Linked DNA regions of Homo sapiens: all the other regions are linked to region 2. The links come from fine-mapping of genetic effects on gene expression. A gene starts in region 2. Each other region holds a variant in brackets. All regions are shown on one strand. Distances are from middle to middle.

The links. PIP is the estimated chance that this variant, and not a neighbour inherited with it, causes the effect.
Region 1: its variant is fine-mapped to the expression of SMARCE1 in whole blood (TOPMed, PIP above 0.99). The same link has a PIP of 0.9 or more in blood mononuclear cells and monocytes.
Region 3: its variant is fine-mapped to the expression of SMARCE1 in hypothalamus (GTEx, PIP 0.99).

Annotation. Positions count from the first base shown.
Region 1 is chr17:40,624,783-40,627,541 of GRCh38, forward strand. SMARCE1 (SWI/SNF related BAF chromatin remodeling complex subunit E1) reads right to left here. Exons shown (of 11, transcript NM_003079.5): 11 at 180-2,759. Among named protein-coding and RNA genes, the nearest start is that of SMARCE1, 22 kb to the right of the region's middle. The variant G/A (reference allele first, on the strand shown) is at 1,309.
Region 2 is chr17:40,646,200-40,649,004 of GRCh38, forward strand. It overlaps SMARCE1 (SWI/SNF related BAF chromatin remodeling complex subunit E1), which reads right to left and starts at 1,619. Exons shown (of 11, transcript NM_003079.5): 1 at 1,574-1,619. RefSeq lists a silencer at 1,858-2,152.
Region 3 is chr17:40,608,681-40,611,343 of GRCh38, forward strand. No RefSeq gene overlaps it. Among named protein-coding and RNA genes, the nearest start is that of SMARCE1, 38 kb to the right of the region's middle. The variant T/C (reference allele first, on the strand shown) is at 1,088.

The DNA.
Region 1 (2,759 bases), 21 kb before region 2:
GAGTATTTATCATTTGGGAATTTCCCCTCCCCATATAATACTTTTGACTCCTGAATGCATGCAAAAGAGCTGTAAGAAACTTTCTGGTGCTAAATGAGAAAATGTGTGAACATAAATGAGCTAGTTTAACTAAAAGTTCACCAAAATGTATTTTAAACATCAGGCTCTTAAAAACTCAATAGTTTGAAATTTGCATTTTAATCAGCGTTTGGCTAACAATATGAGATAAACTATTAGAGAAGTGTAGGTCATTCTGGCAAATAGAAAGTTCCATCATTTCACACTTAGAAAGCTGCCACGAAGAGCTTATTCTTGGAGTATAAAATGCAGAATTTAGGTTAAGCCAGTCATTTTGTAGATGAAATTGTACACTGGCAATTTCTTATGGTTCAACCTAATAGTAAAACATTTATAAACAATTGTATCATTACAAATACATTTAGACATCGTTTTCTGCTAAACTCAGTATTTTCCTTTCCATCCTGATCAAAGAAACATTATTGCAGTAAGCCACATTATAATTCAGCACGATTTCTTCTAAAAAGGCTCCGAGTTCCTTTGAGCTTGTTATTGTACAGTGGATTTTTCATTTGCAAAGACGTTAAGCCCTCCAAATGTGCAAATCATGAAGTCAGTTGTTGTTCCAGCAAGGTTTGCCCAGCGGTAAAAAACAAGATAAAACTAATGCACTAGCTGAAACCAGGTGGGGAGACCATGTGTGGTAGTGCTTGGGGGTGGAGGGAAACTATTTCTGAAATGAGGACTTAAAGTATAATACCAGCTTCACTGCCTGTTCACGAGAAACCAAAGCTTCAATTTAACTGCAGGCAATAGGAGTTTCACACTGTCAGCACCAACTGTCTAAAATCCAAAACTAGTATCTAAATGTGTAGGATCAAAACCAAAAATCTGGAGGGATCTAGTTAAACTTCAATATGCATGACCCCAGATTCCCCTTTAAAATATAGTCCAAGTATTTTATCTTTTCCATAGGGCATTGACATTATTGTGTTAATGTGAAATAGCTATTTACCTCTCCAAACCTCGGCTTTATAGAATAGATAATTATCACATCCTGTAGGAGAGCCATTTGAAAAGACAGCCTTGTTTACAGACAGGAGAAGTTACAGAATTTAAAACTGTTAGAAAATTGGGGGACTATGGGGCTGGGCGCGGTGGCTCACGCCTGTAATCCCAGCACTTTGGGAGGCAGAGGAGGGTGGATCAGGAGGTCAAGAGTTCGAGACCAGGCTGGCAAACATGGCAAAATCCTGTCTCTACTAAAAATACAAAAATTAGCCGGGCGTG[G/A]TGGCGGGCGCCTGTAATCCCAGCTACTCAGGAGGCTGAGGCAGGAGAATTGCTGAAACCCAGGAGCTGGATGTTGCAGTGAGCCGAGATGGCGCCATTACACTCCAGCCTGGGCAACAGTCAGACTGTCTCAAAAAAAAAGGAAAATTGGGTGACTATCGAGGATTCCCCTCTCCCATTTGTTAAAAAAAATTAACAAAATTTAGGCCCTCAGACTTTATGCATTCATACTCAAAATAAATGCACTAAAAATCAAGGAGCAGTAAGGGCACCAAGAAAGAGCAGTTTGATCTATTTTATAATTAAAACAGGCTCGAGTTCAAGCTACTTGCCCAGCACCTTTTGGGACATGGGAAAAAAACAAAGACCTCTACCATATCCCACATTCTCTAAACTGAGAACCATCTCAAACATCAAGTCTACATATATCACTCTGACCAAGTGGATTTTTACATCAATCTTCCCCTGCTGAGGTTCAGAGCTGTCAAATCCCAACTGAGGCCGGGCACAGTGGCTCACGCCTGTAATCCCAGCACTTTGGGAGACTGAGGCAGGCGGATCACCTGAGGTCACGAGTTCAAGATCAGCCTGGCTAACATGGTGAAACCCCATCTCTACTAAAAAATACAAAAATTAACCGGGCATGGTGGCGAGAGCCTGTAATCCCAGCTGCTCTAGAGGCTGAGGCAGAGAGAATTGCTTGAACCTGGGAGGTGGAGGTTGCAGTGAGCTGAGATCGCCACCACTGCACTCCAACCTGGGCGACAGATTGAGACGTCTCCCATCTGACTTAATTCCCTCATCAACTGATTGCCAGTGTTGTATGGACAGGCTTGGTCTGGATAGACTTGTCTTCCCACTGCTATTTCCAGCCGGGCAAAAGAACCACTTCCATTCTCTTAGAGCTTTCGATACCACAGTAAATAACCTGGTATCTTGCTGGGGCAGTTTTCCACCCATATTAAACTACATCTGCCCCATTTTGACTACTAGAAAATGTATCAAAGAGGCTGTCCAATTTGTCTGAGATGAGATGGCTGAAGTTCTTAGCCAAATAATGGCCAAAGCTCAAAACAGATCTATTTGATACAAATTCGTTCTTTGACACACAAGGAAACAGATGTCAAGAGTTGTTTCCACCCAGTATCAAGCTTCCTCCCCTCCTCTCTCAGGAGGCTGAACACACATTCCTAGTCACTAATGTGCTATGAACTGAATAGCAGTGAATCCACTTAAATTAACTCATGCTGGTACAGAGTCCTCTCCATATAGGCACAGGACTTAACATTTATCATTTAGCCATTCTTTCAAAGATAATTCAAACGTTACAGATTTCTCCATATTCCTGTTAATGTAGAAACATATTCCCTTTACTTTTGGAATCAAAGACCAACTTCCATATGTGACAATGACTATAATGTAAGAAAACTGATTTTCACAAGTGTCTTGTA
Region 2 (2,805 bases):
ACGCAACAAGGCCTACCAGATACTGACAGCTCCCTGATCAGCAACTGTATCATGCTTTTGGGATAACAATTTTTATTAAAATTAGGCAGCATTTTATTCCTGGAAGCAGTGCAAAAGGTAATTGGTATGACAATGAACTTCACATTCTCTTATAATGGTAAATAGCTTCATAAATGCTGGGAATAAATTTTGAGAGTCTACCTGAAAAACTTTTATTCATCATTCACAGCCCATTTCAAAATTTTTCTCCTCAAGGGAACTTTCTTGATACATTACCTGGGCAGAATTAACTGCTCCCCCATCTGTATTCCTATACAGTTTACACAGATCTATATTATTATAACTTTTTTTTAACTTATCAATATGGCTAGATTGTATGCTACTTGGAAAGAGGGACCATGTCAGGACCTAGCTCAATTCTTAGGAAATTTTTTCCTAGTATTACCAGCTCACAACATAACCAGGCACATGTGAGCTTGTTCTTTACATCAACATACATCACAAATAGTGAGGTACAAAAAGACAAAAATTCATCTTTGGAAAGAAGGCAAATAAACTTCTATGACTATTGGAGGTATTTGCAACCAAACATGTGGAATAGATCTGATTTTTCGCTTCTATTATTAATTTTAAGGAAATTCCCTGGAGCATAAGGAATGAGTCCTGGTGTGGAAAGAAACAGCTCATTTTCTCAATGGTCCAACCTGAGTCTTTCCCTCTTAAAGAACAGCCAGAAACCTTTGACTCTGGTGTAGATTTCCTTTCTGCTCACATTAAGGGAGCTGTCAACATCCAGCAGGCCTCGCTGCAGGGGACCCTGACAACTAACATAAGCTCCCTGTACGTTATACTTCATTGTTAATACTTTAAAATTATTGCTCTCTTTTGCTAGAATACAAAATTTAAGAGTGGGCTTGTACATTTGTCCACCGTTGGATCCATCTTTGGTGCCTGGCATAAAAATAAATACCCGATAAATATTTGTTCAAGAAATACTTTATACGGGGTACGCTTATGACACTATTTCGCTTAACACTCACAAGTACTTTATATGTACAGCTATCCCCATTTTACAGATGAAACAAGGGAGTCTCGGAAAGTTTAAACAACTTGTCTGAAGCCATATGCAGCCAGGAAGTGCCAAAGTTGGGTTTCAAACCCAGGCCAAACTATTTCAGAGCTCTGCTCGTCCTCAAGTCGCTGCCTGAACCAATGGGGGAACCTTCTGCCCGGGTGGGGGGTGAACCACGGACCTGCCTTGCCCACGGCTTCCTGAGGTCGCTCTCTTTGTCTTGGAGAATGTACTTTACTAGCAACTCCCCTAAAACGGGGTATTCACAGGTGCTTTGACCAATTTCGGGGGACTGGCCTTGCCTCCAAGGAGGGGGCCCCAGATGGGACTCCCTCCCAACCCTCGCTCTGCTAGGCCTCAAGGAGGCCTCAACCGGCTCCTGGCTCTGGCCCCACGGCCAAGGCTGAACCCCAGCAACCCCCGGGAACTCGGGGTCTAGCCAAGCGGGGACACCACGACTTGCACCCACCGACCCGGTCCGTCCCACTTGGAAACACTCACCCGCGGGCAGAAAAAGCGCCCGCAGCTCCGGCTTCGCTTCCCTTTGTCCCGCGCTCGCCCCGCCCCTCGCGTCCGGAGCTTCCGCACTCGCACTTTCCACACTCTTCTTAATTTTTTTTTTTTTCCGGGCCCCACCCGACCCTCTTTAGAAAAACTAACCTTCTAGTGAAGATGCGGTGATGCTTAGCACACTCAGGGATTTTTTTCAGGACCCATTGGATCCTCAAAACTCCCCGAATTTTGATACTTTCCCAGCCGGGCGCTGATTCGTCACGGCGAAGAGGGCCGAGGAGGCCCGACCTAACACAGAATAGGCCTGGGTTTAGCGGCTGTGAGGAGCCGGAGCCGCCGCAGCGACCGAGGAAGTGGCGGGAGGTGCCGAGCCTTGCGGAGGGGCGGTGGGGGCCGCGGTGGGAGACGGCGGATGGCGCTCAGCGCGAGGCCGCGGAACCACTGTGGCAGCAAGCAGTTCGGCCAGACTCCCGCTGAGCCCGCTCCTGGAGGGGCCCTCCCCGACTCCGGTCTTGCTTTCCTTTAGGCTGTGGGTCAGAGTCTACACTTCACTAAACCTGGGATGGAGGCGTGGAGGACTTGCTTCGCGGCGTTTGCGTCCTCGCAGGCGCCTCGCAGGGCTTCCTGCCCTCACGGCGGGGGAGTAGCTTTGGCGAAAATCAGCACGAGTTCTGCAGTTTTTCCAAGCGCTTTTAGGGTGTAATCGTCCCAGGTTTCTAAGCCAAGGCCCGGAGAGTTGACCCCCTCGCAACAGCTTGTGTGTCCTTGCAGCGCCGCGGGTGCCACCTGGTCTCCGCCTCAGCGCTGCCTCGGCTCCTTCGGTTCCCACCAGCGGGAACGACCGTCCCCACTTTCAGCTTAAACTCATCTGTCCTTCTGGATCCAGCTCAGAGGTCTCTTTGTGATGCCCTCCTGGAACTTCCCCCCTAGTAATCCTTCCTTTGTATTCCCGTGGCTCTTTGATAATAATGGTTGGAGTCCTGAACCCGACCCTTTGTATCGGACCGTGTTTGTCATCTCCAGTGCTTTATGAAGGCCTTGAAAGCAAGGTTCAGCCGTCTGTATTGGTCATCTTCCCATTGCCAGTGCCTACGAAGGGCTTGACCCATTCATTGTTAGACGCTCAGTAAGTGTGTATTGAGGCAGCCCTCTGTGCCACTCCAGGGCTCTTTCCACTAAATCATGAGTATGTTGGTTTACCAGATGGAATGAGTAGCCTC
Region 3 (2,663 bases), 38 kb before region 2:
CAGTGGTGGAATTAAAAAAGACAAATGAGACCCAGACCTCACTCTTAGGAAGCTTAGCAGGGGAGAAGGGTGAGCAAAGGTTACTCTAAACAAGGCCAAATGACACAAAAGCCATAGCCACAAAAGCCTGGGTGGAGGGGAAGTTTGGGAATGGGCGGTTTCGTGGCAGGCCTGGCATTGGAGCTGGTCTTTGAAAGATGGGTGGTATCTTAGTTTCCTAGGGTTGCTGTAAACAATACCACAGACTCAGTGGCTTAAACAACAGACATTTATTTTCTTATAGTTCTAGAGGCCAGAAGTCCAAGATCAAGGGGTTTCCAGCATTGTTTCTTCTGGTTTCTTCTGAGGACACTCTCTGTGGCTTGCAGATGGCCACCTTCTTGCTATGTCCTCATGTGGTGGTCTGTGTTGTCTGGGTCCTGATCTCCTCTTCCTTTTTTTTTTTTTTCCCCAAGATCGAGTCTTGTTCTATCATCCAGGCTGGAGTGCAATGGCGAGATCTTGGCTCACTGCAACCTCTGCCTCCTGGGTTCAAGCGATTCTCCTGCCTCAGCCTCCCTAGTAGCTGGGATTTCAGGCATGTGCCACCACGCCCCGCTAATTTTTTGTATTTTTAGTAGAGATGGGGTTTCACCCTGTTGGCCAGGCTGGTCTCAAACTCCTGACCTCAGGTGATCCACCCACCTTGGCCTCCCAAAGTGCTGGGATTACAGGCATGAGCCACCACACCCGGCCCCGATCTCCTCTTCCTATAAGGATGCCAGTCATATTGGATGAGAGCCCACCATTGACTTCATTAAGGTAAAATGAGGTCATATCCATGGGCCCCAATCCAATATGACTGGTGTTCTTTATCTCCAGGAAGGCCTTGTCTCCAAATACAGTCCCATTATGAGGTACTGGGGGTTAGGAATTCAATGTATGAATTTGAGTGGGGAGACACAATGAAGCCTGTAACAGATAGGATGTTTTCTTTTCACATTTGTTCCATTACAAAACTACTCACTGTGGCCAGGTGCAGTGGTTCATGCCTGTAATCCCAACATTTTGGGAGGCAGAGGCAGGAGGATTGCTTGAGCCCAGGAAT[T/C]TGAGACCAGCTTGGGCAACATAGGAAGACCCAGTCTGTACAAAAATTAATACATAAATTAACCAGGCATAGTAGTGCATGCCTGTGGTCTCAGCTACTTGGGAGACTGATGTGGGAGGATTGCTTGAGCAACCCAGAAGGTTGAGGCTACAGTGAGCTGTAATCGTGCCACTGCACTCCAGACTGGACAACAGAGTGAGACCCTGTCTGTCTCAAAAAATAAAACATAAAAACACCCAAAAGTACTCATTGTAAAATGTTGTGAAATGTTGAAAAGCACAAGAGGGAAAATAAAAACCCTTTAGAGATGACCATATCTGTCCATGAAAAAAACAGTTTAAAATGGGTTTATACTTATAACACCTGTTGTTTGGTAAACTATTTTTATAGTATAAATATGTCATGAACTATTAAATTTTCTACCACAACATCACTTTTAATGCCTGCCTCATGGTCCATGATAAGGGTGTATTGAATGTGTTTAACCAGTGGAGAGTGGGGTTTTGATTAGCCAAGACTGGGATGGAGAAGTAGCAGCCTCATGGAAGGGAATGATGTGAGCTCCAAGGGCACAGTAGTTGGTTACACTTCAGCAAACTGCAACCAATGAGAACAGTTCTCAGAATCAGGTCGATTACACTTATAAGAAGATGTAATTTTTTGTGTGTGTTGGGGGTGGTCAGGGAAATAGACTGTGGACATGAGAGTGCTGCTGCTTCTGAGAAGTCCTGAAGGGTCCTGAGAATGAGCCAGCTCCATGATTTATGTCTGACTAATCAGTCTCAACTAGACCTGATGGGGGCAACTGAAAGTCAAAATTTGACTCTGCAGGGTGAGACTGAACTCGATGAACATAGTTTCATAGTTTTAATTGAGATGCTGCTTTTTAATGAGTGACTGTTAGTGATGAGTGATTATTGCTTTTCCCATCACTCACTTCCCTCACTCCCCTCTTTCCTTCCCCACCCTTTATCCCAGATGAGGAAAAATCATTGGTAAAACAAAACAAAGAGAAAGGGATTTAGTGATAAAGACTCACCTTGTTTCACACTGAAGACTGAAGGATCTAAAGGAGAAGTTCAGGTTGGACCAGGAGGGCTTCTAGGGGAGAGAAGAGGCAGAGAGAGCAGGGAGAGAGCACAAGTCCCCAGCTGGAGTGCAGTGGTGCAATCTCGGCTCACTGCAGCCTCGACCTCCTGGGCTCAAGCGATCCTCCCACCTCAGCCTCCCAAGTAGCTGGGAATATAGGCTCTCACCACCATGCCCAGCTAATCCTTTTTTTTTTTTTTTTTTTGTAGAGATAGGGTCTCACTATTTTGCCCAGGCTTATCTCAAACTCCTGGGCTCAAGTGATCTCCAGCCTTGGCCTCCTTAAATGCTGAGATTACAGGCATGAGCCACTGTGCCTGGCCCCACTGTGAATTTTGAATGATCCAATAGGTGATTCAATAGGGAAAAAATGCTTATTCCTGTTAATTTCAACAACTGAGCCTTTCAAGTTGTGTTTATATAGCCAGCATGGACTTAGGTTTCATTTGCCCTACTGTGCAAGTGGAAGAAGAGGAATGTGGCAGTG